Regions from separate parts of the Homo sapiens genome. Here regions 1, 2, 3, 4, 5 and 6 are each reported to be linked to region 7. Evidence: microRNA targets listed by miRTarBase, many of them from high-throughput screens and not tested one by one. Region 7 holds a microRNA gene; each other region holds the end of a gene's coding sequence.

Region 1 (4,158 bases), not on the chromosome of region 7:
AAAGGAGGGAGGCAGAGGGAAGATGAGGTAGAGCTCCCACTTCCACTGCCCCCCCACCGCCCCCCGCCCCAAGCTCTCTGGCATGACTTGTAACCTATGAGGACGCAGGCTGCTCAGGCTCCTGGGGCAGCAGCTGGGAGCAGTGCCGCCTTATTAAGTGCAGAGCGCCCTGTGAAGGGGGAGGCCACAGTGCCTCCAGGTGCCCCCTGTCCCAGTTCCTTTAATTGCTGGGCAGAGGAGGCTCCAAAGAGGCACCCAATTCACAACAGATTAAGCAATGTGAAAGGAACTTAATTAGCCTCTTGTTTAATTTCCTCTTTTTGATGATGTTTAAACTAGTTCCAAAACTCCACGTCTATTCCTAGCCCATGCAGGCAATGGAAAATCCCTCACCACCTAAGCACCCATCTTCCCACCCCAGCAGCTCCCTCTGATGGCTTTGCTGGGCTCCGGATATTGGCTCCTCTGGGGGCATCTCTGCTTTATGGGCCCCAGAGGTAAATATTGACAAAGTGTACACAGGTCCAAGTTAGAGATGAACTGCATGCACAAAGACCTACTCTTGTGGGGGAGTGGAACGAGGAGGGTGCAGTGGAGGATGGAGAAGGGAGGGCTGGGCAGAGCAGGCGGCCTGGAGCTCCCCTTGGAACGGAGGGAAGGCAATGTTTTGGTGAGAACCTGGGCCCTGGCTCCCTGGAACACCAAGCCAAATGGCTTTGAAACTTCAGCAGGAGGGACAGAGGTTAAGACTGTGGGTTCCCAAAAGTGGGTTAGGGAGGGGACAGGGGACACAACGGTGAAAGATGTGAGGAAGAGGCCTAGCTCTCAGGAGTAGACACATCAGACAAATGCTTGTGCCCCATGTTCTGGGGCTGAAGGTGTGTGTGTGTGTGTGTGTGTGTGTGTGTGTGTGTGTGTGTGGAGGGGGTTGGTACGGGGTGGCAGAAGGGACAGCACTGCTTCAAAGAAAGCAGCGGGGGACTTCACACCCACTCTGGGCTGTGTCTCCAGGTTTCCATGTTCTCTGCTGACCAGCATCTCTCATTGGATCTGTGGGGCATTCTGGGAGAGCCTGCATTCCCCTTTCTTGGTGGTCTCTGCATGCTGTCTAATATCCTCACCCTACCCCCACCTACCTTCCTTCCCCACCTAAAGGTGCCACCCTCACAGCTCTGGGTCGGAGATACTTCCAGCTGACCTGGAAGACAGCTGCTGAGCCCTGTGTCCCTGTGTGTGAAATGTGAAGCCCTGGTGTTTTTTTTTTTTTCTTTTCTCCAGGCAGGGTCTTGCTCTGTCACCCAGGCTGGAGTGCTGGAGTGCAGTGGCACAATCTCGGCTCACTGCAACCTCTGCCTCCCGGGTTCAAGCAATTCTCCCACCTCAGCCTCCCAGGTAGCTGGGAATACAGGTGCCCGCCATCACGCCCGGCTAATTTTTGTATTTTTAGTAGAGATGGGGTTTCACCATGTTGGCCAGGCTGGTCTCGAACTCCTGGCCTCAAGTGATCCACCCAACTCAGCTTCCCAAAGTGCTGGGATTATAGGCGTGAGCCACTGCACCCAGCCAGCCCTGGTATTTTTAGGCAGAGTAGCCAAGAGAGAAAAGTGGTGGACTGGAACTAAGAAGGCCGGCCCCCTCCTGGCCTGGCAAGCTTCGTGCACCTAGGTTTCCCGGCCCATAAAATGAGAACAATTCCCCATTCTCAGGATCCCCGTAATGGCTGAGAAAGCACCTTGTAAAGGCTTGATGCTGGTGGATGAGAGTTACAGAAGGGGAGGGTGCTGGCTGCTCCCCCAGCCTGCTCCCCATGTGACTTCAATTCCTCTTTCTAGCTGAGGGCCTGAGCCCCCTTCTCCTGATCTGACCCCACAGGCTCCAACAGGGATGTGAATTCATACCAGCATTTATACAACCCTAGACTCTCACCTCCTCCCCTCCCCCACAGCCCCAAAGTAAGTACCAACTGGGAACAGGAAGTAAAACCAACTAAAACCAAGAACTGAAACCAGCTCATCTCTCACTGCCTCTCAAAGAGGGACAGTAAATGAGCAGCTCCTGTGACGGGTAACCCCAGGGCCCGACATCATGGAGATCAACAAGGGCCTAGTGGGGGATGGATCTGACAATGAATGACACTGGGGATGGGGGCAATAGGTGGAGGTGATTGCTGAGCATGGCATACAAATACGATGAACACACTTTTCCTGATACCGGAATTCCCAACATTGGAACCTGTGTGCCCCTTTGTTTTTATCCTTGTATTTGTGAATTAAAAAAACAAAAAAAAGATTTGCAGTGGTTACTTTTGTTAGTGCCCCCTCTCTTCAGTGAGGCAGAGGCTGTCCTTGCGGTGAGAGGAAAAGGCCCCTTTCAGAGGAACTTAGGTCACTGCCCGGCTCTCTACTACCATCCTCCTCAGAATTGGCAGACATTATGGAAGACAGTACCTTATGGAGTTCCAGGTTTTTAATTTTCCCTGAATTTTTTTTTTAAACAACAAAATTGGCAAGAAGAAAATTCTTCGACATTTGGGGGCTGGTCGACATTTGGGGGCAAGGGTTCCACTGAAAAATCCCCCAAATTCACGCTGAGGTTTCAGGTCATGGTTGCTGAGGTGGAAGATGAGGTCAGGGCTCTTGGAGATTTTCCAACCCACCCTAGAACTTGTTTCTAAATGGCTGGGGAAGAGGTCAGTATAGGTCCCCCCGTTACTGCAGATGAAGGCAGAAGTCATTCTCTCCCCCACCCCTCAACTTCTTCAGAGATGTGGAGATAGGAGGCTTCGATCTCTAATTGCCTACGATCTCTTAAAAATATAAAACACGTGCAGTTGACTTTGGTACAAAAAAGAAAACAAAAGAACAACAAAACATTCTGGTCCCTGTGGGTTTTTTCCCTCACCCCCAACAAACCATTATGGCCACCCCAACCTTTATTCCATCAACTCCAGGAAGCCAGGTTATCTCCCAGGGCTTCCATGAAGGACGGAGAAAGGGAGAACAGCAGTAAGAGGTTGAGGGGAGAGGAGAAAGGGACATGGCCCTGCCCACAGCCCTCCTTTATTTAAAGGGCAGTAGGGTGCTGTGGCTGCAGCCTCTCCTCCAAGACGGATGTTGCAGGGGAGGGCCGTTAGGGCAAGAACCCAGCAGCTGCGTGGATGAGCCTGAATATACCCCAGTAGTGTTCAAGGACAAGGCCCTCTGATCCCTATGGCTTGGTTCCCATGTCCCTGGTCCTTTAAATCTCCCCTCTCCCCCCATAACTAATAAACAATAAATAAATAAATTTTCCTAAAGTTGCGGGAAGAAGGCATGAACCACTGGCATCTGTGGTGTAGCTTTCGGATGTCCCAGGGGGTGTTGTGGCCTAATTCCCCTAGCTTCTTAAATGGCCCCAGGTATCCAAGGATCCCAAGAGCTGGCAAGGACAATTTGCAGTTCTTTCAAATGTTCCCTCATCATTGGCAAATTGGAGTCCCCAAGGTTAGCCCCCTCAGTAATGTTCTTCAGTGGGGCACGGGGCAGGGGGGAGGGGCCCCCTTAGCTCTCGGAGGCTACAGCCTCCCCGTCGCGGCTCTCCGTCTCCTCCGGGATGTCCTGCATTCTGGTAAAGTCTGAAGGGGGACAGGACAAAGCCAGTGAGTTAGCAGAGACTCCCATGAGGAACTGTACCCCTAGACTAATGCCTCCCCATCTGCAGGCTCAGGGGGCTCTGGGGCTGTGAAGGGATGACAGGGTTCTGTAAATTCTTGGGTGAGAGGAAAACCTTTGGCAACAAAGTAAGCAAGGTATCCATACCTAGGTACCGGATACACTTTTACAGTATCCAAAGATACAATTTGATTAGGAAAATACAAAATACTTTAAGGTTAAAGCTTTTGGTAATTTTTTATTTCATGAACCAACTGTAAAAACTTGAAGTTCTTTGAAACTTTTTTTACTTTAAAAACTGGCCCCATGGCTCGTGCTTATAATCCTAACACTTTGGGAGGCTAAGGTGGGAGAATCACTTAAGGCCAGGAGTTGGAGACCAGCCTGGCCAACATGGTGAAACCCCATCTCTACTAAAAATGCCAAAAATTAGCTATATGTGGTGGCATGCGCCTGTAATCCCAGCTACTCGGGAGGCTGAGGAACAAGAATTGCTTGAACTTGGGAG
Region 2 (4,158 bases), not on the chromosome of region 7:
ATAAGCTGTTTTTTTTTTTTTTTTTTTTTTTTTTGTGTGGCTATTATAACTGACTACATGAAAATAAATATAAAAAATTTTCCTAGTGTATGAACCTAAAAAGCAAAAAGAATTTTTTTTTTTTTCTGAGATGGAGTTTTGTTCTTGTTGCCCAGGCTGGAGTGCAGTGGCACAATCTCAGCTCACTGCAACCTCCACCTCCAGGGTTCAAGTGATTCTCCTGCCTCAGCCTCCCGAGTAGCTGGGATTACTGGCGCCCGCCACCATGCTCAGCTAATTTTTTGTATTTTTAGTAGAGACGGGGTGTCACTATGTTGGCCAGGCTGTTCTCGAACTCCTGACCTCAGGCGATCCACCCGCCTCGGCTTCCCAAAGTGCTGGGATTACAAATCACAGGTGTGAGCCACTGCGCCCGGCCTTAAGAAAGACAATTTAAAAAAATTTATCTGTTATTGAAAATACAGGAAGCCAAATGTTTGGAAGTAGACAGAGGGGATTGTTGTACAACATTGTGAGTATACTAAATGCCATTGAATTAGACTATTTATTTATTTATTGAGAGAGAGTTTTGCTCTTGTCGCCCAGGCTGGAGTGCAATGGCGAGACCTTGGCTCTATAAAAATACAAAAATTAGCCAGGCATGGTGGCACGTGCCTGTAATCCCAGCTACTCGGGAGGCTGAGGCAGGAGAACGGCTTGAACCCGGGAGGCGGAGGTTGCAGTGAGCTGAGATTGCGCCATTCCACTCCAGCCTGGGTGACAAAGTGAGACTCCATCTCAAAAAAAGATAATAATAAATAAGTTAATTAAATAAATAAAAAGGGCAGTTTCTCAAAGTGTGTACTAATTAAAAATCCGGATTTTTGGATTCTTCTTGGGACCTTGTGACTCAGAATCGGGAAAGGTGGAGCCCAACTCTGGATTTTTACCATGGCACCCCGAGGGTTCTGATTCTCCTGAAAAAAATTTGAGATCGGCCAGGCGCGGTGGCTCACGCCTGTAATCCCAGCACTTTGGGGGGCCAAGGTGGGCGGATCAGGAGGTCAGGAGTTCGAGACCAGCCTGGCCAGTATGGCGAAACCTTGTCTTTACTAAAAATACAAAAATTAGCCAGGCGTGGTGGCGTGTGCCTGTAGTCCCAGTTACTCGGGAAGCTGAGGCAGAAGAATTGCTTGAACCTGGGAGGCAGAGGTTGCAGTGAGCCAAGATAGCACCATTGCATTCCAGCCTGGGTGAGAAAGCAAGACTCCATCTCAAAAAAAAAAAAAAAAAAATTGAGATACCTGGGCTTAGAGGTCAAGGAGCAGGTGCACGGGAGTCGGAGGGATGCTGGAGATGGTATTAGGCGGGATGGTTCTTCCGTTCTTCCGCATGAGAAAGTCCAGGTTCTGCAGGGGAGGCTGCCGCCGTGGCGGGGTAAGCAAGGTCACGGGCCTTTTGGCAGTACTTAAAGCTTGTGGGTAAATGGCGATTTAACTAGAAGTCACGAGTCATAACATAGACTAAAGGCCTGTGCGAGCTGTCCCCATCTGGCTCAGCAGCCAGAAGGAACTACTTTGCCTCTGGCTGTCTCTGTCCCAGTCTCTCTGGCCTCTTTAGGTCCCAGATGTGTTGTTTCCTCCTGCCTTCACACGACACTGCCATTGCCCAGAATGCTCATCCCTGGACGGTCCCCGAACTCCCCTCATCTTTCACTTCTCTGCTTAAAGGTCACTTTCTCAGGGAAATCTTCCCCAAACCCAACCTAGCTCAGAACTCCCTGTCACGCGTTCTCCTGGCTCCAGTACTTCTCCTCTGAAGCAAAGATATTGTAGTTAAATAACTAGGGAGGCCTGGCGCGGTGGCTCACACCTGTAATCCCAGCACTTTGGGAGGCCGAGGCGGGTGGACCACTTGAGGTGAGGAGTTTGAGAACAGCCTGACCAACATGGCGAAACCCCATCTCCACTAAAAATACAAAAATTAGCCGGGAGTTGTGGCGGGCGCCTGTAATCCCAGCTACTCCGGAGGCTGAGGCAGGAGAATCACTTGTACCTGGGAGGCGGAGGTTACAGTGAGCCGAGATGGCACCATTGCACTCCAGCCTGGACGACAGAGCAAGACTCTGTCTCAAAAGAAAAAAAAAAAAAAGGGAATGAATTAATGTGTTTTTGTTGTTGTTGTTGTTGTTGTACTGCTATACTATGCCTGGTACTTTGTAGGGACTCAAATCCAGATTGTTTGTGGAATGCATGAAGGAGCTTTAGGAGAAAGATTGGGCTTCAGGAGTGGAAGCAGATGATGGAGGTGAGAAATGTTCGTGGAGTGATGCTACCTCCCTCCAGCCCAGCCTGGGGCTTCGGTCAAGCCTCAGGGAGTCCCTGATGAATATCCCATGAACAGCACTAAGATGTGGTCCCTAGGACAGGGGCCCACGGCAGCATGACGTTCTTGCTGCCCAAGCCTCAGCTTCTGTGTTAGAATGTAGGTACCAGACTCCAGAGACGTCACGTGGCTTGTCTGGTGAGGCCTGCGGTTGTGGCACCGCTGAGCCACAGGAGCAGATGGCTCGAGCAGCCATAAGGAGCAGTGGAAATGAACGCGACTCGGTCACAACAGGTCACAGGTGGTCATGTGCGTCGGCCGCAACAGGGAAGGGCCTGCCCTGGCTAGCTCCCGTGAGCATCTGTGTGCAGGCGAGTTAGTTTAGTTACTGTGACCTCTAGAAATGACTAAGTTCACTTTGTGGCCTTATCAAGCCTCACCCTTGAGTTTGGACTAAGTCAAGTTTTGATGTTTACCCTGGAACACAGCCACAGCACAGTCATCCAATAAACATTTGCTGATAGCCTCCGTGTCAGGTGGCTTTTGGGTGCAGAAGAGAGACTGGGTCCTCCCCCACAAGCTAACAGAATCATGGATAAGCACACCATACACTCTCTAAACACTACAGAGAAAACACACACTCATGCTTAGTAAAAGATTTATTTTCTTCTTTATGCTCAGAAACAAAGAAACGGCCTTGTCCCCAAAGGGTCTCCTCTTGAAGGAATGGGGGCAGAGAGAGTGATAATGGGAGGTGTTGGTGTGAGGTTGAGAGTAGGAGTTTTGTCTCCCCCTTTCCCTCCTGTCACTCCTCTTTTCACTGTCCCCTTCCAGAAAATTTAGGTATGAACACAGCTTGCCACCCACGGCGGGGCTGGAGAAGCAGAGCTGCAGTCAAAAAATTAATGCCCACATTCAGCAAGAGAGGGTCCAGTGTGTATCTTGGGGGGATGGGGGAGAGAGTGTGAAGGGATTGGTTGAAGAAGCTTCCAGGTGAGGGGAAGGGAAGAGGGGCTGGGACAATCCCCCATTGACAGTGGGGATCTTAATCCTGCCCTCACCTCTCCCAACCCCATCCCCTCCCTTCTTCCCACCCCGCTTCCTAGCAGAGTTGATCATCATAGTCGTCATCCTTCATCCCCTTCAGCCGAAGCCGGGCAAAGTCCTCAAACACAATGTCATCATCTGTGGCATAGCTTGGTGGTGGGAAAGAGGGTTGTGAGGTGAGGGCTTCTGACTCTTGTCCCAGCCTCCCACTCCCTGCCCTCCCCGAAGCTAGGCCTCTGGGACAGAGGCGTTCGAACAGCAGTGGGACCAGAGGTATTTACAGGAAGGGACAAAGAAAAGGCAGCAAGAGGCAGCCTCACAAGGCTAAGGCATCTTGATTTGATGCTACAATCCGCTTCTCCCCACCAAAAGCAAGGAAGAGGTATGAGGGCAGATTTGAATGTTATAGGAATCTTTGTCCCAAGAGGGTCAAGTAGGGGAATGAGTTTCTTACTTGGTATCAAATTCAATGAGGTTGGTGTCCACAGGGACATCTGTCTCCGGAGCGGCTGGGGGGACGGGAAGAGGGGGTGTGGGGGTGGGTGCTGGAAGGGCCAGTTTTCCTCCACTGGCCCTGCTTCAGGCCCTCCCTCTGAGGGCTTGGGGTGGGTAGTGTGCTCACCTGACTGGGGTCTGGGGAGGGGGATGTGGTCGTGGGGCTTGGGGTGCATAAGAACAAAAGGCAGCTCCACAGAGACATCCCTGGGGAAGGGGAGAGGCATCGTGAAGAGGACGACGACATGGGACTAGAGAGAGCCAGTGTGACCCCCACCCAGGCTCCCCCATGACACTCACCCGCCTCGAGAC
Region 3 (4,003 bases), not on the chromosome of region 7:
GAGGTTGTGTGCGGCTCCACGTGCTGGGGCCCTTCCCCTCCTGCCAGGCTCAGGCCCAGGCCCAGCTGCCGCTTGGAAATGGCGACCCCTGAATGGAGACCTGTCTTGCCAGATGCTGCACGGTCTCCTGGGCAGAGCAGGCGCTCTCTGTGCGGGGAGCTGACGGCTCACGGGCTTTCCACAAAAACCTCTCACCTCCTTCCAGGTTTTACAAAAGCCACCAGCTTCTCTTCTACAGCAGCAAAAGCCGCCATATTTCTTTCCTTTTTCTGTTGAAGCCTGGGGCCTTACGCCTTGGCAAGGTGTCAGCTTCCCTGAGAGGGGGACCCTGTGCCAGAAAGGGGTGCCAGCTTCCCTAAGAGGGGGACCCTCGGCTGGGGAGGGGCACCGGCTTCCCTGAGGGGGAACCCTGTGTCGGGGAGGGGCGCCAGCTTCCCTGAGAGGGGGACCCTGTGCCAGGGAGGGGTGCTGGCTTCCCTGAAGTGCCTAGGGTCCGAGCACTCACCTGCTCTGTGCTTTGGGTTTGTTTGTTTTTTGTTTTTTTTTTTGCTAATGGCAGTCCTCAGAGCCTCCGGAAGGGAAGGCATCAGGAAGGCTTGAGTTACAGGTGGTGGACCCTCAGAGCCAGCCTGCTCCAGAGCCCGGGCTCCCAGGCAGGAGCTGGGTAGCGCTGGGGTCCATGGATGTAGTTGAGCGAGTGGGGTTACGCCATCTTCCTCCAGCTCCAGCCAGAGACTCCCGAGAGCGGTCTGAAGCCCACATGGGTGGCCCCGGGCAGCAGGGTCTCCAGGCTGGCACGCAGGCTCCTGCGGTTCTGGGTACTCTGACGTTTCTCAGTGTTTATTCACAAGTCTCTCTGAGGGGCGGCAGGCTGTCTCTCGTCCCCTATGGCAGGAGGCTGTTTGGGAGTCGCATGTGCGGCATCTCTGGCAGGTGCACGGGAGCCGAGACTCCAGCAGACCAGGGTGGGGGCCGGAAGGGAGCTGCTCTCGCCTGACACCCCTCGTGGGCACCCGAGACAGGGAGGCACAGCATGGTGGCCGGGACGTCGTCACCACTGTGGGCTGGAACTGCAGCGTGCTCTGTGTGACACAGGCTGACTCAGGTTTTTCTTTTAAGGCAGGGCTTAAAGGAAGTTTTACTGTGACCAAAGTTCTGTGATTGAGGGGGTGTGGAGAAAACAAAAAGCCTGGCCAAGATGGTGAAACCCCGTCTCTACTAAAAATACAAAAACTAGCCGGGTGTGGTGGCAGGCGCCTGTAGTCCCAGCTACTCGGGAGGCTGAGGCAGGAGAATTGAACCCAGGAGGTGGAGGCTGCAGTGAGCTGAGATTGCGCCACTGTGCTCCATCCAGCCTGGGGGTCAGAGCAAGACTCCATCTCAAAAGCAAGCAAAAAACCCCCAAAAACCCACGAAGCCCCCAAAACAAACCACAGCTAATCCGAACCCAGAAAAATAGACTGGAACCTTCTGGCTTCTCCACACCCCCACCCCAAGCCCGTAAATGAGGTGGACAACCCTGCCTTTGCTCAGGCTCAGCCCTGAAGGGAACAGGAGGGAATCCACAAAAGTTCTGTTCACAGATCGAAGACAGGAGAGGGGGCATGGCCCCACGCCTACCCCCAACCCCACGCAGGGGCCCAGCTGGCGAGGGAGCTCACAGCAGCCTTTGGGGGAATGAAGCCACTGCCCCCGCCACTGGCTCAGCCTGGCAGGGCTCAGGGACCCTCCCAGGTCGGGCTCCTCCGCAGGGGACCCAGTGACCAGGACCCTGTTGATTCTGATGCACGGGCAGTGTCTGCTCTTCTGTGGGGGTTGTTTCTGTAGCTGCCACTCCCTCCCCAGCACCCAGGTACAGGGGACAGACAGCTCAGAAGGAAAAGGGTGAGGCGCCTCCATCAGCTCACCCTCCTGTCACGCCGGGGGCCAACAGTCTCCTGGAGCCACACTGGCTGGAGGGTCCTGGCAGGCATCCTCTGTGCCAAGATCCTCTGAGCAGAGGCCTCGCATCTCCATGCTTGCCTGAGCTGCCTTCCAGCCAGGACAGGGCTCTCAAAGCGCGGACCCTCACCAGCTGCAGCTGCCAGGGAACTGTGGGCAGGGGCACAAGCCAGCCAGCCACAAGCTGAAGCTCAGGGGCGTGCACAGCTGGCCACGGGGTCTGGCCACGGCTGCAGTGCTCAGATCCGTGGGGAGTGATGCTCCTGTTTCTCTCCAGCTCCTACAAGAGGCAGTAATTCCACAGCATTCCCGGTCTGTGCAAAGGCAGAGGACGAGGGGAACAGATAATTTGTTTCAAAATTAAAAGCTAACAACTTGGTAGGAAAAAGGTTTTCTTTTTTTTCAGACAGAGTCTGCTGTGGAGTAGGGTGGCGTGATCTCAGCTCACAGCAGCCTCCACCTCCTGGGTTCAAACGATTCTCCTGCCTCAGCCTCCGGAGTAGCTGGGACTACAGGCGCGCGCCACCACACCCAGCTAATTTTTGGTATTTTTAGTAGAGAGGGGATTTTGCCATGTTGGGCAGGCTGGTCTCAGACTCCCGCCTCGGCCTCCCACAGTGCTGGGATTACAGGCGTGAGCCACCACGTCTGTCCTGGGAGTAAGAAGGTCGTCGAGAGGGGCGACACTGTGTCAGTCCCACACACAGCCCCTCTCCTGGAGGGACGCACTGTACAAAGAGCATTTTAATTAATTTATTTATTTCTTTACACATAACTGAAAGTGATGTTACAGTACATAAGTTATTTACAACTGTGCAGTAATGTGTTGCAAAATAAATTATCTAGAAGGCAGCAAAAGTACATTGTGAAGGTATATAAAACTGTACAGCGTTTACGGATACACTTTTTATATGATTATTGGCTCTGTAGTGTTTCAAGTTACGTTCTCAGAAAGAGAAACAAAATGCCCAAGATTAAAGGAAAGAAGATACAAACCACGCGGATTTGACTCCATTTCAATACGGCTGGGAGTCCTGGCTCTGTGTCCCTCCGCCTGGCTCCGCACCAGGTCTGAAGCCCAGTCTGAGGCCGTCGCAGCTCGGCGGCAACAGAACCACGGCTGGGATGGGGCTCCTGCCCCTCCGACCTGCAGGTCACTGTTTGTGAGAGGTGGACACCTTAATTTTCTTTAGTTGATCAGAATGGAACAAAAAATTTTAAAAATGTACTCCGTTCTCCAACTCCTGAAATGCCTCTGCAGTTGCTGGAGAAAAGGGCCCGAAGGTCGCCGTTTTCAAACAGAAGCTGCCGTGTGTGCGCGCCCGGCATGGTCTCCTCATCCCGCCGGGGCCAGTGAGGCTCTGGGGGCTTTGCCCCCGCCGCGGCAGCTGGTAGAGAAGAGACGTGTTTCACCTCCCCGACGTCTGGACCAGTCTGGAAGGGATGGAGGCGCTGTGGCCAAGTGCAGTCTCTCTCGGGGTCTCTCCCCGCCCGGGTGGACAGGGCGCTCCCTCCTCCGCCCCTGGGGCTCAGCAGCAGTCCTGGGCAGCCGTGCGGCCCTCGCCTGCGTCCTGCGGCCGTCCCGCGGTGTCATGCCGGCAACAATACAAAGTCGTCGTTGACGTCGACCATGGGCACGTAGAAGGAGGGCACCTCGTTCACGCACAGGGACTTGTGCCCGGCGGGGTCCAGTTCCTGCACCTTCAGCTGCCACTCCATCCTCTGCACGGCGTTCAGGGCCGCGGCCTCGTGCTGCTGCCGCATGAGGAGGCAAGTCTGCGGGACACACAGCGGGGAGAGGAGGGAGGAGGAGTGAAGGGAGAGCCCCAGACTCTGCCGACCTCAGCTGCCAGCAGGGCCAAGGGCGTGATACGGCCGTGAACCTACCCTGGTATGGGCCAGGCCCAGCTGTACCCGCTCCTGGCATCTAGTTACTACACGTGGCGGTAGCGCCAGCTGTGCTACATGTCTGTCCCCATAACCGCTGTCTATGCCACCTCTACCCTGGCCTGGGGCTCACCCTGGCCCGGGGGCCCTGCCCTGCTCTGGGTGGGCCTGGGAC
Region 4 (3,999 bases), not on the chromosome of region 7:
CAGCCCCTGGCCCTGCTCTGAATGGAAGCTGGGTGTGAAAATAAGCTTGTGTAGGAGGGGTAGCAAGGAGAATCCTGCCTGGATTCAACCCTCTGCTTGTACTTCCTCTACAGGTTGACAAGGGTGTGGTGCCTCTAGCTGGGACTGATGGAGAAACCACCACTCAAGGTATAGGATGGGTGGGCTTGAGGACCAAAGAGGTGTTAGATAGTTGATGCTGGTAAAAGAGGGGCAGAGTAATGAGGTTGGCACTGTGCTTGCAGGGCTGGATGGGCTCTCAGAACGCTGTGCCCAATACAAGAAGGATGGTGCTGACTTTGCCAAGTGGCGCTGTGTGCTGAAAATCAGTGAGCGTACACCCTCTGCACTTGCCATTCTGGAGAACGCCAACGTGCTGGCCCGTTATGCCAGTATCTGCCAGCAGGTGTGTGTGTTGGGAGGGTGGTGAGCTAGGTGCCCTGTATGCCTGGTGGGGAGAGAGTCACAAGGCTTTCTTCATCTCCCCTACTGCCCCTCCCAAGCATCTCTGCTCTTGCCTGCAGAATGGCATTGTGCCTATTGTGGAACCTGAAATATTGCCTGATGGAGACCACGACCTCAAACGTTGTCAGTATGTTACAGAGAAGGTGAGTCCACACCTGGGCACACAAACATACTGCAGGGACAGCTCGGCAGGAGTGTCTGTTCCCCAGAACCCCCAGCTTAGATCCAGGCACACTTTCCCCTAGCACTTTTTCACTTCATCCCGGCACAGGCCTGTGATCTGAGCCTGTACTGAGCCCTCACAGTCTGTGCCCATCTACCCCTACATAGGGAGCATCGAGCAGTAACCAGTGGGGGCCCAGACCCTTAGTAAACCTCCTCTAATCCCCACCCAGGTCTTGGCTGCTGTGTACAAGGCCCTGAGTGACCATCATGTATACCTGGAGGGGACCCTGCTCAAGCCCAACATGGTGACCCCGGGCCATGCCTGTCCCATCAAGTATACCCCAGAGGAGATTGCCATGGCAACTGTCACTGCCCTGCGTCGCACTGTGCCCCCAGCTGTCCCAGGTACTACCCAGCTCCCTAACCTGCTCCTATCCCTAAGGCCCATCTTCAGGTCCTTCTTGTGGCCTTCAGGGGTTCCCTATCCTGGAAAAATTGGGAGTGACCAGTCAGTTTGTCTTCTCTCCTCCACACTAGGAGTGACCTTCCTGTCTGGGGGTCAGAGCGAAGAAGAGGCATCATTCAACCTCAATGCCATCAACCGCTGCCCCCTTCCCCGACCCTGGGCGCTTACCTTCTCCTATGGGCGTGCCCTGCAAGCCTCTGCACTCAATGCCTGGCGAGGGCAACGGGACAATGCTGGGGCTGCCACTGAGGAGTTCATCAAGCGGGCTGAGGTTGGGAGCTACAGGTGGTGGTGGGTGGGGGCAGCACCCAGAGGCTATAGCCTGGGCAGGGCTTGGCACCTGTGGGCTGGCTCAGCCTGCTTACTCCACGCTCCCTTTTGCAGGTGAATGGGCTTGCAGCCCAGGGCAAGTATGAAGGCAGTGGAGAAGATGGTGGAGCAGCAGCACAGTCACTCTACATTGCCAACCATGCCTACTGAGTATCCACTCCATACCACAGCCCTTGGCCCAGCCATCTGCACCCACTTTTGCTTGTAGTCATGGCCAGGGCCAAATAGCTATGCAGAGCAGAGATGCCTTCACCTGGCACCAACTTGTCTTCCTTTCTCTCTTCCCTTCCCCTCTCTCATTGCTGCACCTGGGACCATAGGATGGGAGGATAGGGAGCCCCTCATGACTGAGGGCAGAAGAAATTGCTAGAAGTCAGAACAGGATGGCTGGGTCTCCCCCTACCTCTTCCAGCTCCCACAATTTTCCCATGATGAGGTAGCTTCTCCCTGGGCTCTCCTTCTTGCCTGCCCTGTCTCCTGGGATCAGAGGGTAGTACAGAAGCCCTGACTCATGCCTTGAGTACATACCATACAGCAAATAAATGGTAGCAAAACATTCTACTTTGCCTGTCTGTTTTACACATCAAATTCCCACCTCCCAGTTTCTGATCTCTGCTAATTCTATCTCTGGGCCCTCTGACTCTGGAGGTGGAGAGGGTGGGATTTGAGTCTTACTGGGCTTCAAGTTATGGAGGAAGGGCACATGCAGTCACCATCCCCAGCTCAGGCTCTTGCTCTCTTGATGTCCAAGTCTGGAGTGGGGCAATGAGGAAGACTGCAAGTCTTCTAGGGACTGCCACATCAGTGGCACTGGGCTGCAGCTACAGAAGTATGGAGTGAGGCCAAACTGGCAACTCCTGAAGGCAGATTTGTGCAAGGCTCAAAGCAGGGAGGCAGCAAGACAGGCTGGGATAAGAGTGGGTGGGAGTCTCTCCCATCTCGCAGTGTTAAGCCCAGCTGGGACCTGGTACCTTCCACTAGGGTGAGCCACACCAGTAAGGGCAAGCGAGCACCTGGACTCCCGCCCAAAGAGGAAAACCAAGGCTCTGCGGGCTGCCAGGGCTGAGCAGGGCATCTAGGAGGTTGCCAAGGGCTATGGCCCATTTTCATTTGGGGTAGAAGTGGGCACAAAGGGAGCCAATTGGAGGGTCTGGGTAAGGACAGCTCTGGTGAGGCCTGATGCTGAACTTTAACCACTGGGCTGGGTTGTGAGGTAGGCTGAGAACCTGGGTCTAAGCAGATAAAAAGAAGAGATAACAAGCTGCGTGTGTTCTGTGTCAACTGGGGAGGCTACAAATGCTCCACCCTGTGTGGCCTGACTTTATAATAACAAAAATAGCTTGCACATAGCACCAACCCTGTTCTAATCACTTTATATGTACTGACACATTTCATACAACTCTATAAAGTAGGTACTATTACTATCATCCCTATTTTAATAGAGAAAACAGGCACAGATAGGCACAGAACGATCTTCTCACGATCACTCACCTAATAAGTGATGAAGCCAGGATTTGAACCGCAGTGATCAGCATCTAGAGTCTGGGCTCATGACTTTTCAAGATTTTTAAGTGAAGTATTCTGAGTTTTCCAAGTTGGAAATGAATTAAAACGTATTTTAAAATAGCGAGAGAGCCAATTGTGCTAAAACATACTAGCTTGCTACCTCCGTGTTTGAGGCTTTGAGGAGAGGGCACCCTAAGAGGAGTTCTACGATAAGGATAATAAGACCGTGACAGTTGACGTTGAGGGCTTTCCGTGTGCCAGGCTCCTTACAAGAACGGCCTCATTTATGTAAATATCTCCATTTTCAGATGAGCCTCGGAGCTGCCTGTAGTTGCCCAGCTAGTATTTAAGGACTGCAGAGGTTGCGCTCTTGATTGCGGGGCTAGAAGTGTGTTCTACAGGGAAGCGGGGAACTTCGTTCCAGCAGCGCCGAAACCCGCACGGCCCCTAGGCTGTCCCTCCGCGCCCGGGTGACTTCCTTTCAGATCCCCAGCGAAGCTCCCAGCGGAGCCCTCCCACCCCTCGCCCGCTTGCTCCCGTCTGCGGGTCTGGAGTAGCGCTCGCGATTGGCCCCGATCACCGCCGCGGTCCTGCCCCCTCGTTGCAGAGATTCCGATTGGGTGAGGCTCACGAAGCTCTGCCCCCACGGTGGCCGGAGCAGCCGGAAGCTAGCATGGCGGCCGCCGGGGCTGCGGCTACACACCTAGGTGCGGTGGGCTTCGGGTGGGGGGCCTGCAGCTAGCTGATGGCAAGGGAGGAATAGCAGGGGTGGGGATTGTGGTGTGCGAGAGGTCCCGCGGACGGGGGGCTCGGGGGTCTCTTCAGACGAGATTCCCTTCAGGCTTGGGCCGGGTCCCTTCGCACGGAGATCCCAATGAACGCGGGCCCCTGGAGGCCGGTGGTTGGGGCTTCTCCGCGTCGGGGATGGGGCCGGTACCCTAGCCCGTTTCCAGCGCCTCAGTCGGTTCCCCATGCCCTCAGAGGTGGCCCGGGGCAAGCGCGCCGCCCTCTTCTTCGCTGCGGTGGCCATCGTGCTGGGGCTACCGCTC
Region 5 (4,158 bases), not on the chromosome of region 7:
CAATAAATGTTCTGCTGAATTGATAATACGTTTTCCACCTTTCTTTTCACTTACAGTGGGTAAAGGAAGAAGCCCCAGATATACTGTGCCTTCAAGAGACCAAATGTTCAGAGAACAAACTACCAGCTGAACTTCAGGAGCTGCCTGGACTCTCTCATCAATACTGGTCAGCTCCTTCGGACAAGGAAGGGTACAGTGGCGTGGGCCTGCTTTCCCGCCAGTGCCCACTCAAAGTTTCTTACGGCATAGGTGAGACCCTATTGATGCCTAATGCCTGAACTCTTCAAAACCAATTGCTAATTCTCTATCTCTGCCCCACCTCTTGATTGCTTTCCCTTTTCTTATAGTTTTTTATGCTAATTCTGTTTCATTTCTATAGGCGATGAGGAGCATGATCAGGAAGGCCGGGTGATTGTGGCTGAATTTGACTCGTTTGTGCTGGTAACAGCATATGTACCTAATGCAGGCCGAGGTCTGGTACGACTGGAGTACCGGCAGCGCTGGGATGAAGCCTTTCGCAAGTTCCTGAAGGGCCTGGCTTCCCGAAAGCCCCTTGTGCTGTGTGGAGACCTCAATGTGGCACATGAAGAAATTGACCTTCGCAACCCCAAGGGGAACAAAAAGAATGCTGGCTTCACGCCACAAGAGCGCCAAGGCTTCGGGGAATTACTGCAGGCTGTGCCACTGGCTGACAGCTTTAGGCACCTCTACCCCAACACACCCTATGCCTACACCTTTTGGACTTATATGATGAATGCTCGATCCAAGAATGTTGGTTGGCGCCTTGATTACTTTTTGTTGTCCCACTCTCTGTTACCTGCATTGTGTGACAGCAAGATCCGTTCCAAGGCCCTCGGCAGTGATCACTGTCCTATCACCCTATACCTAGCACTGTGACACCACCCCTAAATCACTTTGAGCCTGGGAAATAAGCCCCCTCAACTACCATTCCTTCTTTAAACACTCTTCAGAGAAATCTGCATTCTATTTCTCATGTATAAAACTAGGAATCCTCCAACCAGGCTCCTGTGATAGAGTTCTTTTAAGCCCAAGATTTTTTATTTGAGGGTTTTTTGTTTTTTAAAAAAAAATTGAACAAAGACTACTAATGACTTTGTTTGAATTATCCACATGAAAATAAAGAGCCATAGTTTCAGCCTTGCTGTCTTCGTGTCTTACCCCTTCGTGGGGCTACACATTCTCTTCCTCATATTTTCATGCACACAAGTTAACAACTGAAAAAGCGTAGAGTCATGACCTTATTTATTTACAAGCACAGGATAAGTCCCTAACCTCCCCCAAAGACTGAGCAACCCTACCCAGCCCAGTTAAATACTGCAACTGGGGGGGTAAAAAAGGTCGGGAGGAGGAATTAAGGGAAATACAGGAATAGGGGAACATATCCCACATTAAATAGTTATATACACATCAGTTCCTGTGGTTCTGTACAGAGCAGCGGCTGACCCCACCCCCACAGGACACAATGTGGGGAGAGGAGACTGAGGGTACTGAGGCCAGAGCCAACCTCTGGTGAAGTGCAATAGCAGCAGCAAAGTCCTAATGGTGCACAAGAGGGAGGGGAACCCCCAGGGCTACCCACCCCCACCCTGCCCTGGAATGTGTAAGGGACAGGAATGGCTCTCAGGGAGCACACAGGAAGGACAAGGCTGGAACCGTCTTCAGGGCCCAGTTTTAAGGGCAACGTTTTGCCTACTTCACCCTAGACACAGCAACCCTTGGAGGAAAGCAGATGGTCAGCAGTGCTCTTATCTGCCCCTCCAAACCTAAGTGAGGGCCTGGTTCCTTCCTACCTCTCCCCAGGGAAAAGGAAGGCAGCTGCTTGGCTTCCTTCTAGAAGCCCCGGGAGCCTTTAACTACCCCAGCTCCCTTCGTAGTGTCACTGTCCCCACCAGGGAGGGGCCAGGCACAGTCTGTGGGTCATCAGGCTCAGGAGAAGTTCTGGACAGGGTGGCTGACCTTCATACAGGCCCAATAAAGAGCCCGGCCCAAACACAGCACAGCCAACAGGATGACAAATGCCCAGGCTGCATAGATGCCTCCATATCGCCGTGCATGCTTCCATGTGCCAAACTGATGAAGATAAGGAGGGAGAAGAAAAGAAAGATGGGGTTAATGTTGGTCTCCACTACCTCCTATTAGTTCTAAGAACAGTAATAACTCACGCTTCAGTCCTTGTTCCTTATCCACATGTAGCCACCCTCAGGGACCTTCTTAAAGGCAGAGCTGATCAGCTTCCTTCCCTTAGGCGTAACATACTCATCCCATCCCACACTGTATCTCAGTTTTTCTTAATATCTGACAACTGAGCCAGGTTTGAAAAATAGCAACTCTTAAATTAAGAATTTCACTGTCCTATCCTCATCCTACAGAGAAAGGAAGGCTGTTTTTCACTCTTGTAGTAGTAATAAAGTCTGTTTGATCAGCCACTTTGCACTTTAGCTCATCCATATCTTAAAACAAAACAAACTAGTCCCCCAAGTTTCTTCCACTTTTTTTTAGGGTAGCAGTTTCCCAAATCTTAGCCTATGGAGATGAGGCTGCAGAATGAAAGAGGTTGGGGCAAGGGTACTCACGGCAAGGCCAGTGGCAGTGACTGCCAAAAGCAAGCCAAGCAAGAAGCAGCAGATACATCTCTTACGTGGGTATCTGCGCCCAATAGATGACCTGTGGGGAGGCAAATAGAAATGGATGCTTTCTATGGCCTTGTAGTTTTTACTCCATACATCAATTACCAGCTCAATCCCTAATCACTTACACTTTCCTGCAGTGAGGACAACGTGCCAAAGTGCGGTCTGTGAACTCTGTCCACTATGGAGAAAGAAAACAAAAATAATAGCACAAGCAGGGTCTCCCTCAATGAGAACCTTGGGGTGGGGATGCAGAACATGTTCCCATAGGACAGACCTTTCAGGGGTCATTACCATTACTCTAAGAAATATACTCGAAATGACTCTTAGTCTCCTTTCCCCTCCCCTTCCCAATACCCCTTCCTCACCAGAAAAGTATTCTTGCAATGTCCACAGATAACCCTGACACCCATGGGTTGGGGTTCTGGACTCAGAGGTCCGGGATGCACAGGCCCCAGGTTGATGATTCTTTTGCTATACAAAAGAAAAAGACTTGTATTTTCAAACTTGTGTTTGAAAAATTTTTAATCCTAAAAATCTTCACAGTCCCTGTTCCACATCCCCCACTCCCTGTCTATTAAGTCACTCGACTTCTCTGTACTTAAGATACTCTGTCCCCCAACTGTATACCCTCAAGAATCCTTGAGAAAGAAAGAGCACTGTTTAAACTTCAGGTCCCCAATTCCCCTCCGACCTCAGGATAACACACCCAGTCCCCAAGGCTCTCTATTCTCCGAAACGACATCATTTCATCTCAATATTTTTATTGAGAAACGAGAAAGACAGCTATAACATTCCTGAGGCACATGCTTCAAAGCCTTTTCTCCTAAATAAACACTAGGCTCTCTCACCTTTACATTCTCTGTATACGCTCATCCTTTTTTGACTTTCCAGTTCCCCACTTAGGCCCTTCCCCACCTTATGCCTCTTACCAGTAGGGCCGAGGGCATGCAATCCGTTGGGATGTCACTTTGCAGATAAGGAGACAGTTACAGGGGCATCGAACATATTTTTTCCCTGGGGGTGCATTCTTGATTGGCTAGAGAATAATAGGGTCATCAGCAAGCAAACCTCTAATCCCAATCCCCTCCACTTCCCTCCAAAAACACTTTATGAGATCAGAAAAATAAGGTGCTAACCAGGAAGGAGAAATAAAAGAAAGACTATATCATGAGATTTGCAAATAGGAACTAGGCTAGGTGTAAAAGTGAGAGAAAGTGAACATTAGCTTTGGTGAGTGGCTTCTGGGGAAATGGCTGTGTGAGACACCTGGAACTGAAACCTGGGTATCATCAAAAGCACTTGGCTAATAGCCGGAAGGTCAGGGTCTAGAACCAAGACATCAGAAAGAGGATCCAGGAAACAGGGCCCATTTCATAGATATGTGTAACTCACGGTGGCTTCATTGCAGACACCACATTTGACTACATGCTGATGCATCTTGCCTTCCACGTTGATGAGAGATTGGCAGACTCGGCAGGTGATCATAGGGGCACTCCCACTGTCCGGG
Region 6 (4,158 bases), not on the chromosome of region 7:
GGGTGTGCTGGCATGTACCTGTAGTCCCAGCTACTCTGGAGGCTGAGGCAGGAGAATTGCTTGAACCAGGGAGTTGGAGGTTGCGGTGAGCCGAGATCGCGCCACTGCACTCCAGCTTGGTGACAGAGTGAGACTCTGTCTCAAAAAAAAGAAAAAGAAAGGTCTGTAACTCGAACATCATTTGGTGGGCTAAGTGCTTTACTTGCAGGGTCATTTAATCCTCATTTCAACCCCTTTTATAATTGAGGCGACAGGCCCAAGGTCCCTCTCCCGGGATGTTTTGGAAGAACAGTTCAAACCTTGGTTTTGGTGGGTGTAGAATCTGTTTCTTACTTTGGAGCCATCTGGTAGTACAACAGCCATGGTGTCCTAACATAGCCAACCTAGCCATGGCTAACCTCCATGTCCTCGTCAGACCCCAGACCCAGACATCATCAGGTTTTGAACTCCCTTAGTCTGGCTCCAGAGCATGTGCCATAACGCAAAATTGCAAGGTTAGTACTGTCCAGTCCTTTGATCCGCAGCAGTGTGTGGAAGAGGCAGATAGAGGAGCATTTGAGTCTGGGTGTTTTTGGAGGCTTCTCATACCTGATTGGTCCCTATAATTATGAGGAAGAGAGGGATGGACATGGTTGGAGTGTAGGCATCAGCGGAAGTCAGATCCTGCCCAGACCAGCTCCCCATCCTCTGCCTATGCTATCAGCCTTGACGCACCCTTCCTCAGCACACTGGGCATCCAGGAGAAGTACCTGGCACCCTCGAACCAGTCAGTGGAGCAGGAAGCCATGCAGCTGTAGCAACAAGGTGGACCCTGGAGAGCAGGATGCATAATCCAGCACTGGGGAAAGTGGAGGCTCCTGATGCAGGCTGCAGACCCAAGAGCAAGTCCTCCCAGCCAGAGCTGGCGGGCTGGCAAGGGGATATTCAGCTCTGCAAAGGACTTCTGGCCAAAAAGCCAGACATGGTGCCAAGCAGAACACCCCCCATACTGTCAGTGGTGTCCGTGAGCTCTGGGCCCTGCCACCAGAAAGTCGAGCACTGGTCCTAGTCAGGCTGTGATGAAATGTGCTACAATACAAGAGTTTATTTTCTACTTTTTGTGACTTCCAAACTTTTCTTCAGTCTTCCGGGCCCAGGGGTTTGGGGAAGAATGAGGGAGTGTCACCTAGCCTTGGAATAATCAGTATTTCCCCAAAGCATATAATTCACATTCAGTCACATAGGATTTACATTCAGTCTCCAGTCATGTGTTTTTATTAATCTTCAGTTTTTGGTTCTGAGGTTTGTTTTTTAAAAGATGGGGTCTTGCTATATGGCCCAGGCTGGACTCAAACTCCTGGGCTCATGTGATCTTCCCGCCTCAGACGCCTGAGTAACTGGGACTACAGGTGTGAGCCACCATGTCCCACAATTTTCAGTTTTAACAGAGCCTCAAGCTTCAGCTTTCACAGGCAACACTTCCTAACTAGAACTTTGTTAATGTTTTATATTCACTGTATTTGTTTTATGGTTTTATTCTATTGTTGACAAGTGTTAACTAGTTTTCCATTTACAGTAGTGGTTAAAAGTTTACTTCAAGGCTGGGTGCGGTGGCTCACGCCTGTAATCCCAGCACTTTGGGAGGCCGAGGCAGGCGGATCCCAAGGTCAAGAGATCGAGACCATCCTGGCCAACATGGTGAAACCCCATCTCTACCAAAAAATTTTTTTAATTAGCTGGGCATAGGTGGCGCGTACCTGTAGTTCCAGCTACTTGGGAGGCTGAGGCAGGAGAATCATTTGAACCCAGGAGTCAGAGGTTACAGTGAGCTGAGATTGCACCACTGCACTCCAGCCTGGTGACAGAGCGAGACTTTGTCTCAAAAAAAAGGTGTACTTCAAAAATGAAATACAAGGCTGGGCGTGTTCACTCATGCCTGTAAGCCCAGCACTTTGGGAGGCTGAGGCGGGCGGATCACCTGAGGTCAGGAGTTCGAGACCAGCCTGGCCAACATGGTGAAACCCCTCTCTACTAAAAACATAAAAATTAGCTGGGCATGGTGTTGCACGCCTATAATCCCAGCTATTGGGGAGGCTGAGGCAGAAGAATTGCTTGAACCCAGGAGGCGGAGGTTGCAGTGAGCCAAGATTGTGCCTACATTCCAACCTGGGCGACAGAGCAAGACTCTGTCTCAAAAAAAAATAGTAAGTTGTGTAAAGAAAAATATTAATTATATAATATGGCAGTTCCTATGAGAGTGTGGCAAAAATCAAGAGGGCTTGGAAGTTTTTTCTTTGCTCTTGCAACTGGCTGGATGCAGTTCATATATTTTTCAACCAGTAGGTGGCACCCCAACCTAATTTTTTGCAGTTGTAACCTGGTGGCAGAAGGGGCAGGACTGATGGCTTGGGCAAGACTGTTATGCCAAGTTTTATTTGCATGTATTTGGACTTTCTTTTTTTGGAGACAAAGTCTCTCTCTGTCGCCCAGGCTGGAGTCCAGTGGCACAATCTCGGCTCACTGCAACCTCCGCCTCCCAGGTTCAAGCAATTCTCTGCCTCAGCCTCCCGAGTAGCTGGGATTACAGGCGCCTACCACATGCCCGGCTAATTTTTGTATTTTTAGTAAAGACGGGGTTTCACCATGTTGTTCAGGCTGGTCTTGAACTACTGACCTCATGATTTACCCGCCTTGGCCTCCCAAAGTGCTGGGATTACAGGCGTGAGCCACTGCACCCGGCCACATTTGGACTTATTAACACATATGAAGTGCTTGGTATTTTAGAGTGCTTCCACACACACAATCCTCATTAGAGATAGACAGGATGGGGAGAATTAATAAGCCATTGCCCGTGTTACAGTGAGGAAGCAGAAAGATGAGAAGTTTGAACTTTGGTCAGCCTGGCTTTCTCATAACCCATTTTGCTGACTAAATTGCGAGTATCCCTCCTTTGGTATATTTATTGGTGAGAAGTCACAGCCCTTGTCCCACAGGTTTTGCAGCCAATCAGGAGAAAGAAATTAGGCACCTGTAAAGTATTACTGAATCATAGATAGTTCACCAGTGGTTTGGGCAGTTGGCAAATTAATTTAGGGACATCTGTTCTGAAACAGCATTGAAATAGGACTGACTGCTTTGCTTTCTGGTTGTGGCAGCCAGAGCCAAAGGCAGATGAATGAGGGGCTATGAGGAGGCTACTGTGGCTGGAACAGTATGAAAGCAACCTCAGCTCCCACGCCTGGCTGTAAAGGGGATAATAACTGGGTGCTGCTTCCCAGCCTCTTTCATCTGAGAAGTTCAAAGCACCTCACCCCTATTAACACCCCACAGAGTAGGTAGGAAGTACCAATAGAGCAAGCCAGGAAAACTGAGGCCAGGAGGCACAGCCTGGGGCTAGCTGTGAATCACCTGTGGGGCCTAGAGCCCAGGAATCCTGACGCCCAGGCTACTGGACAAATCCTTTATCAGGGCATTAGGGTGGGTGCTATGCTTTTGAAAGCAGTACCAACGGCTGTGGTCGTGGGTTTTGATGCTTGCCACTCACAGAGGCCCCAGCTCTCACCATAACAAACCAAATGGGGGCTGGAAGGCATCCTTTACAACTTTATGGTCTCGTATGCAAGCACCCTCAGCATTCTCTGCACCCATGGAGTGGAGATGGGTGGGAGTAATCCAAGGCCTTTATTTTCAGGCCATGGTTTGACAGCAAGGGTATTTTCTTCCCCAATAAACGTAGCTTCTGTCTACCTTCCACTGGCAGCAAAATGATTTTCTGTTCTCTGCATATACTGAGGGGATCTGCACAGTGCAGAAAGGAAGATGTCCGAGATCCAAGTGAGGCCTGTTCAGTGTGAAATGTCTAGGGTAGAAGAAAGACCATCCTCCATTATGGCTGGCATGTGGCAGTCATCCTTAAGATTATTTTTAAATTTCCTAATAAATATAGGAAAGTAAAAAACTTAGAAAATGAAAGAGAAGGCCGAGCACGGTGGCTCACGCCTGTAATCCCAGCACTTTGGGAGGCCAAGGCGGGCTGATCACCTGAGGTCAGGAGTGTAAGACAAGCCTGACCAACATGGTGAAAACCTGTCTCTGCTAAAAATACAAAAAAATGAGCAGGGCATGGTGGCATGCGCCTGTAATTCCAGCTACTTAGGAGACTGAGGCAGGAGAATCGCT
Region 7 (4,158 bases):
GTCTGTCTATGGGATTTGACCCCAGAGAGCACAGCTGTCCTCCTGAGCCAGCACTGCCAGGCCTCTGGGGCAGTGACTACAGACATGTCCCAGCAGCCAGGGAGCCTGCTGTACCTCCTGTGCCCAGCCTCACGGACCAGTCAGCTTTCCCTGGTTGCAGGTGGAGGGCCTCGCGCCTGTCCTCCCACCCACCCGGGTCCTGCTTGCCCCAGCTCTGTCCTCGCAGCCCGCACAGCTCTGCCAGCAGGAACTGGGCAACTGCAGCAAGAAGCTTGGGCTGGGCCGGGGCCGCATCCCACTGTCCCTCCCCAAGGGCAGGCATGCAGGGGGGTCAGCCACAAGGGACCTGCCCTTCTCCCTGCCTTCTGTGGGTTGGGAGGCTCCTGACTGAGCCACCTGGAGGGAGAGCCCTCACATTCAGAGCCCTCCAAAGAGTTTGCCAAATGTTGGAAATGCCTCCAGGGCCCGTCCACCAGCCGTCCAGCTTCCGGTGCCTGCATGAGTCTCCGCTTGGCCCTCTCCTCGGCCTAGGAACCCGCAGGTCTTGTCCCGTCAGGTTCCTCCTGAAGCTTTTGTTCTGAGAGGAAAAACTTTCCAGGGTTTCAAACTTGGAAAAACACCTGAACGCAGCCAGACACATTTTCCGTCGTCTGGTCAGCCAAGGAAGTGTTGGCCTGTGGCTGCACTCACTTCCTTCAGCCCCAGGAAGCCTTGGTCGGGGGCAGGAGGGAGGGTCAGGCAGGGCTGGGGGCCTGACCGCCCACACTCCTCCTCAGGCCTGCGGGGAACGCCCTGCTCCCCAACTAAGCAGCCTTCTCTTTGTTCTCTTCCTTCTCTCTGTAAACCCCCGTTTCCTGCCTTGTTCCCTCCCTGAACATGCTCTTCACCTGGCAAGCAGAGGAAGCTACGTTGGGATATGTGAGCAGTGTGCTCCGTGGTGCTGCTGTGTGACCCGCCTTCCCGTAGCCCCTTGCCCCGCTGCTCCCGCTAGGCCCTCTTTCCTGCTCCTGCCCCGCCCCTTTCCCTGCCGCTGTCACGCCTCTTTTCTGCCCTGCCACACCCCATTTCCGGCCCCGCCCCTTTCCCTGCCGCTGTCACGCCTCTTTTCTGCCCTGCCACACCCCATTCCCGGCCCCGCCCCTTTCCCTGCCGCTGTCACGCCTCTTTTCTGCCCTGCCACACCCCATTCCCGGCCCCGCCCCTTTCCCTGCCGCTGTCACGCCTCTTTTCTGCCCTGCCACACCCCATTCCCGGCCCCGCCCCTTTCCCTGCCGCTGTCACGCCTCTTTTCTGCCCTGCCACACCCCATTCCCGGCCCCGCCCCTTTCCCTGCCGCTGTCACGCCTCTTTTCTGCCCTGCCACACCCCATTCCCGGCCCCGCCCCTTTCCCTGCCGCTGTCACGCCTCTTTTCTGCCCTGCCACACCCAATTCCGTGCCCTGCCTCTTTCCTTCCCCTGCCACACCCAATTCTGTGGCCTGTCGCTTTCCTCTTCCTGCCCCTGCATCACCCCCTTTCCTGCCCCGCCCCATTCCCTGCCCCTGTCATGCCCCTTTCCGGCTTTGCCTCCTCCCTGTCCCACCTCTTTCTTGCCTCCACCCCGCCCTTTTCCTGCCCGCTCCTAGACCTGCTGCTGCCCCGGCCATCCCCAGGCTTGGGCAGCGGGGCGGGACGGGACAGCCAAGAGACACTGAGCCAGCTTTGCCCCCCACCCCCCTCTCTTGAGGGGCCGCGCACCACCTCGGGGAGGAGCCAGGGCGGGGCCTGACCCCACAAAGCTTTAGTTCCCCCGGGGAGAGGCTGGGGACAAGCTACCCATTCTGGGGTATGACACCTATCAGCACGTGTGAGCCCGCCCTGTGCCCGGCCCACTTCTGCTTCCTCTTAGCGCAGGAGGGGTCCCGCACTGGGAGGGGCCCTCACAGCCTACCCCGCTAGCTTTCTGCCTGATGGTGAGCTTGCCCCGTTGTTCGCCGCCATCTTTCGCCTTTGCCTGACAGCTCAGGTAGGGCGACGTCTCCCCCCAGCTCAGCCCCAGGCAGAAGTCAGGCCCGCTCTGCACCTCGTGCTGTGCCTGGCCCGTGTGTTCCCCTCACAGTGACGCACAGCCGTCCTGTGGGGAGGGAGGGCTCTGGGAAAAGACCCCCTTCTTGAGTGTTCCCCATCGGTTTGTCCCCAGGGCTGCGCTGGCCTCGGCACACCAGTGCCACCCGCTGCCCCGGACGCTGAGCGTCCTGAAGAGCACGCCGCAGGTACGGGGCATGCACACCATCATCAGGTGAGGGCCCACCTGGGGACGGGGCGGCCCCGGGCGCGTGCTCCCGCTCAACTGTTGGCCCCACAGGGACAAGGAGACCAGTCGCGACGAGTTCATCTTCTACTCCAAGAGACTGATGCGGCTGCTCATCGAGCACGCGCTCTCCTTCCTGCCCTTTCAGGTTCGTAGCCCGTAGCCCGCGAGGTGGAGGGTGGGTCTTGGAGCCGGTGCGAGCTCCCTGCGCTCACCGGAGTCCTCACCCTGCACCCCACAGGACTGCGTCGTACAGACCCCGCAGGGGCAGGACTATGCGGGCAAGTGCTATGCGGGGAAGCAGGTACCTGCCTGGGCACACCTGGGCGCGGGACAGGCTGCTGGGGCGGGATGTGGGCGCTTAGCCTCCCCTCCCCGCAGATCACCGGTGTGTCCATTCTGCGCGCCGGTGAAACCATGGAGCCCGCGCTGCGCGCTGTGTGCAAAGACGTGCGCATCGGCACCATCCTCATCCAGACCAACCAGCTTACCGGGGAGCCCGAGGTGCCTGGGGGCAGCCGGGGTGATGAGCCCGGGGGTAGGGGGCAGAGGGAGCTCACAGCAAGGGGACGCAGGGAGCCCCACCTGCAGCCTGACCCCTGCTGCCCGCAGCTCCACTACCTGAGGCTGCCCAAGGACATCAGCGATGACCACGTGATCCTCATGGACTGCACCGTGTCCACGGGCGCGGCGGCCATGATGGCAGTGCGCGTGCTCCTGGTGAGTGAGCCCTGGGTAGGCGGGGCAGGTTCAGGCAGAGGTGGGATTTACCTGCCCAATACACTCGGTAGGACCACGACGTGCCTGAGGACAAGATCTTTTTGCTGTCGCTGCTCATGGCAGAGATGGGCGTGCACTCAGTGGCCTATGCATTTCCGCGAGTGAGAATCATCACCACGGCGGTGGACAAGCGGGTCAATGACCTTTTCCGCATCATCCCAGGCATTGGTGAGGCTGCCCGGGCCCTTCAGCCGCACATGAGGGCAGGGTGGGTGGCCCTGGGAGGCCCCACCACACTGGACCCCCCCCCCCCTTTTTCCAGGGAACTTTGGCGACCGCTACTTTGGGACAGACGCGGTCCCCGATGGCAGTGACGAGGAGGAAGTGGCCTACACGGGTTAGCTGCCCAGTGAGCCATCCCGTCCCCACCACCCTCCTCCTGCCTCCTGACCCAGGACTGCTGAATACAAAGATGTTAATTTTTAAAATGTTACTAGTATAATTTATTCTATGCATTTTATAAAATAAATAAAGCTTTAGAAAAATGAAGGTGTGATTGGTTACAGCACAGGAGAGGTGTCCTGGCTGAGGCATGCATTTGTGGAGACTCCCATGGGGAGGGAGGGAGGGAGCTGAGGGCCCTGCCTTCTCCCCTGCAGGACCAAGCATTCCCAGTCTTGCACTTGTGCCAGATGAAGGAAGGGGTAGAACTGGGCCCTGCAGCTCCTAGCTCTGCTAGATGGGGCCCCTAGAACCCATAGCTTGGTGGCCACCTGGCCTGGACCTAGGGAGGGGACAGGGCCCCCTGGTGCTCTGGGTCTCACAAGAGGCAGGCTGTTTTGCCCCCACCCACAAATTTGTACCATCAGGGTCCTCCCCACAGTTGGGGGGGGGGAGGGTCCTTCCCGTCAGGACAAGTCGCTGGAGGCAGCAAAGCCAGGAGGCAGACCAGGGCGGAAGTGGGGGCCTGCGCTTGGAGGCGGGGCCACCCGGGGCCCACGAGCCCGGAGCCACTGCTGCTCAGGGCCCGCCTCGCTCACCCCTCCAGACCTGGAGGCCCACCCGCATCCCGTGCTCTCTGCCGTGCCCACGCCCGCAAGCGTGGGTTCCCTTAGGTCCTGCCCACCCTGCTTTCCGAGCAGGCCCCC

The links. The annotated mature microRNA hsa-miR-1914-3p reads GGAGGGGUCCCGCACUGGGAGG and lies in region 7 at 1,893-1,914, shown strand. An mRNA with a match to its seed (bases 2 to 7 or 8) in the 3' UTR can be bound and repressed. Matches are read on the target gene's strand: a 7mer-m8 pairs with bases 2 to 8, a 7mer-A1 pairs with bases 2 to 7 and ends in A, and an 8mer does both.
Region 1: the mRNA of ARHGEF2 is a reported target of hsa-miR-1914-3p. Seed matches in the 3' UTR shown: 7mer-A1 at 3,015-3,021.
Region 2: miRTarBase lists ARRB2 as a target of hsa-miR-1914-3p. Seed matches in the 3' UTR shown: 7mer-A1 at 3,299-3,305.
Region 3: the mRNA of ANKRD11 is a reported target of hsa-miR-1914-3p. The part of its 3' UTR that is shown has no 7-base or 8-base seed match.
Region 4: the mRNA of ALDOC is a reported target of hsa-miR-1914-3p. Seed matches in the 3' UTR shown: 7mer-A1 at 1,782-1,788.
Region 5: miRTarBase lists APEX1 as a target of hsa-miR-1914-3p. Seed matches in the 3' UTR shown: 7mer-A1 at 935-941.
Region 6: the mRNA of GPN2 is a reported target of hsa-miR-1914-3p. Seed matches in the 3' UTR shown: 7mer-m8 at 2,000-2,006.

Annotation. Positions count from the first base shown.
Region 1 is chr1:155,944,403-155,948,560 of GRCh38, forward strand. ARHGEF2 (Rho/Rac guanine nucleotide exchange factor 2) reads right to left here. Exons shown (of 22, transcript NM_001162383.2): 22 at 2,452-3,613. The coding sequence ends at 3,540. Among named protein-coding and RNA genes, the nearest start is that of RXFP4, 4.8 kb to the left of the region's middle.
Region 2 is chr17:4,720,288-4,724,445 of GRCh38, reverse strand. It overlaps ARRB2 (arrestin beta 2), which reads right to left. Exons shown (of 15, transcript NM_004313.4): 12 at 4,147-4,158; 13 at 3,974-4,053; 14 at 3,806-3,860; 15 at 2,949-3,500. The coding sequence ends at 3,407. Among named protein-coding and RNA genes, the nearest start is that of MED11, 9.1 kb to the left of the region's middle.
Region 3 is chr16:89,264,947-89,268,949 of GRCh38, forward strand. It overlaps ANKRD11 (ankyrin repeat domain containing 11), which reads right to left. Exons shown (of 13, transcript NM_013275.6): 13 at 2,684-3,717. The coding sequence ends at 3,532. Among named protein-coding and RNA genes, the nearest start is that of ZNF778, 49 kb to the left of the region's middle.
Region 4 is chr17:28,571,121-28,575,119 of GRCh38, reverse strand. It overlaps ALDOC (aldolase, fructose-bisphosphate C), which reads left to right. Exons shown (of 9, transcript NM_005165.3): 4 at 114-168; 5 at 264-424; 6 at 543-626; 7 at 879-1,053; 8 at 1,186-1,385; 9 at 1,499-2,000. The coding sequence ends at 1,594. It overlaps PIGS (phosphatidylinositol glycan anchor biosynthesis class S), which reads left to right and starts at 3,596. Exons shown (of 12, transcript NM_033198.4): 1 at 3,596-3,657; 2 at 3,932-3,999. The coding sequence starts at 3,624. RefSeq lists enhancers at 3,216-3,265, 3,956-3,999.
Region 5 is chr14:20,456,612-20,460,769 of GRCh38, forward strand. APEX1 (apurinic/apyrimidinic endodeoxyribonuclease 1) reads left to right here. Exons shown (of 5, transcript NM_001641.4): 4 at 57-249; 5 at 380-1,156. The coding sequence ends at 897. PIP4P1 (phosphatidylinositol-4,5-bisphosphate 4-phosphatase 1) reads right to left here. Exons shown (of 7, transcript NM_144568.4): 2 at 4,044-4,158; 3 at 3,581-3,687; 4 at 3,017-3,122; 5 at 2,777-2,829; 6 at 2,595-2,685; 7 at 1,070-2,091. The coding sequence ends at 1,948. Among named protein-coding and RNA genes, the nearest start is that of PIP4P1, 2.7 kb to the right of the region's middle. RefSeq lists a silencer at 479-773 and an enhancer at 4,143-4,158.
Region 6 is chr1:26,876,316-26,880,473 of GRCh38, reverse strand. GPN2 (GPN-loop GTPase 2) reads left to right here. Exons shown (of 5, transcript NM_018066.4): 5 at 725-4,158. The coding sequence ends at 797. GPN2-AS1 (GPN2 antisense RNA 1) reads right to left here. Exons shown (of 2, transcript NR_199049.1): 2 at 2,229-2,356. Among named protein-coding and RNA genes, the nearest start is that of GPN2-AS1, 2.3 kb to the right of the region's middle.
Region 7 is chr20:63,939,230-63,943,387 of GRCh38, reverse strand. It overlaps MIR1914 (microRNA 1914), which reads left to right and starts at 1,844; the gene lies at 1,844-1,923. It overlaps UCKL1 (uridine-cytidine kinase 1 like 1), which reads left to right. Exons shown (of 15, transcript NM_017859.4): 9 at 2,180-2,278; 10 at 2,345-2,438; 11 at 2,532-2,594; 12 at 2,672-2,794; 13 at 2,903-3,010; 14 at 3,082-3,238; 15 at 3,333-3,559. The coding sequence ends at 3,412. It overlaps MIR647 (microRNA 647), which reads left to right and starts at 662; the gene lies at 662-757. RefSeq lists enhancers at 1-356, 357-1,070.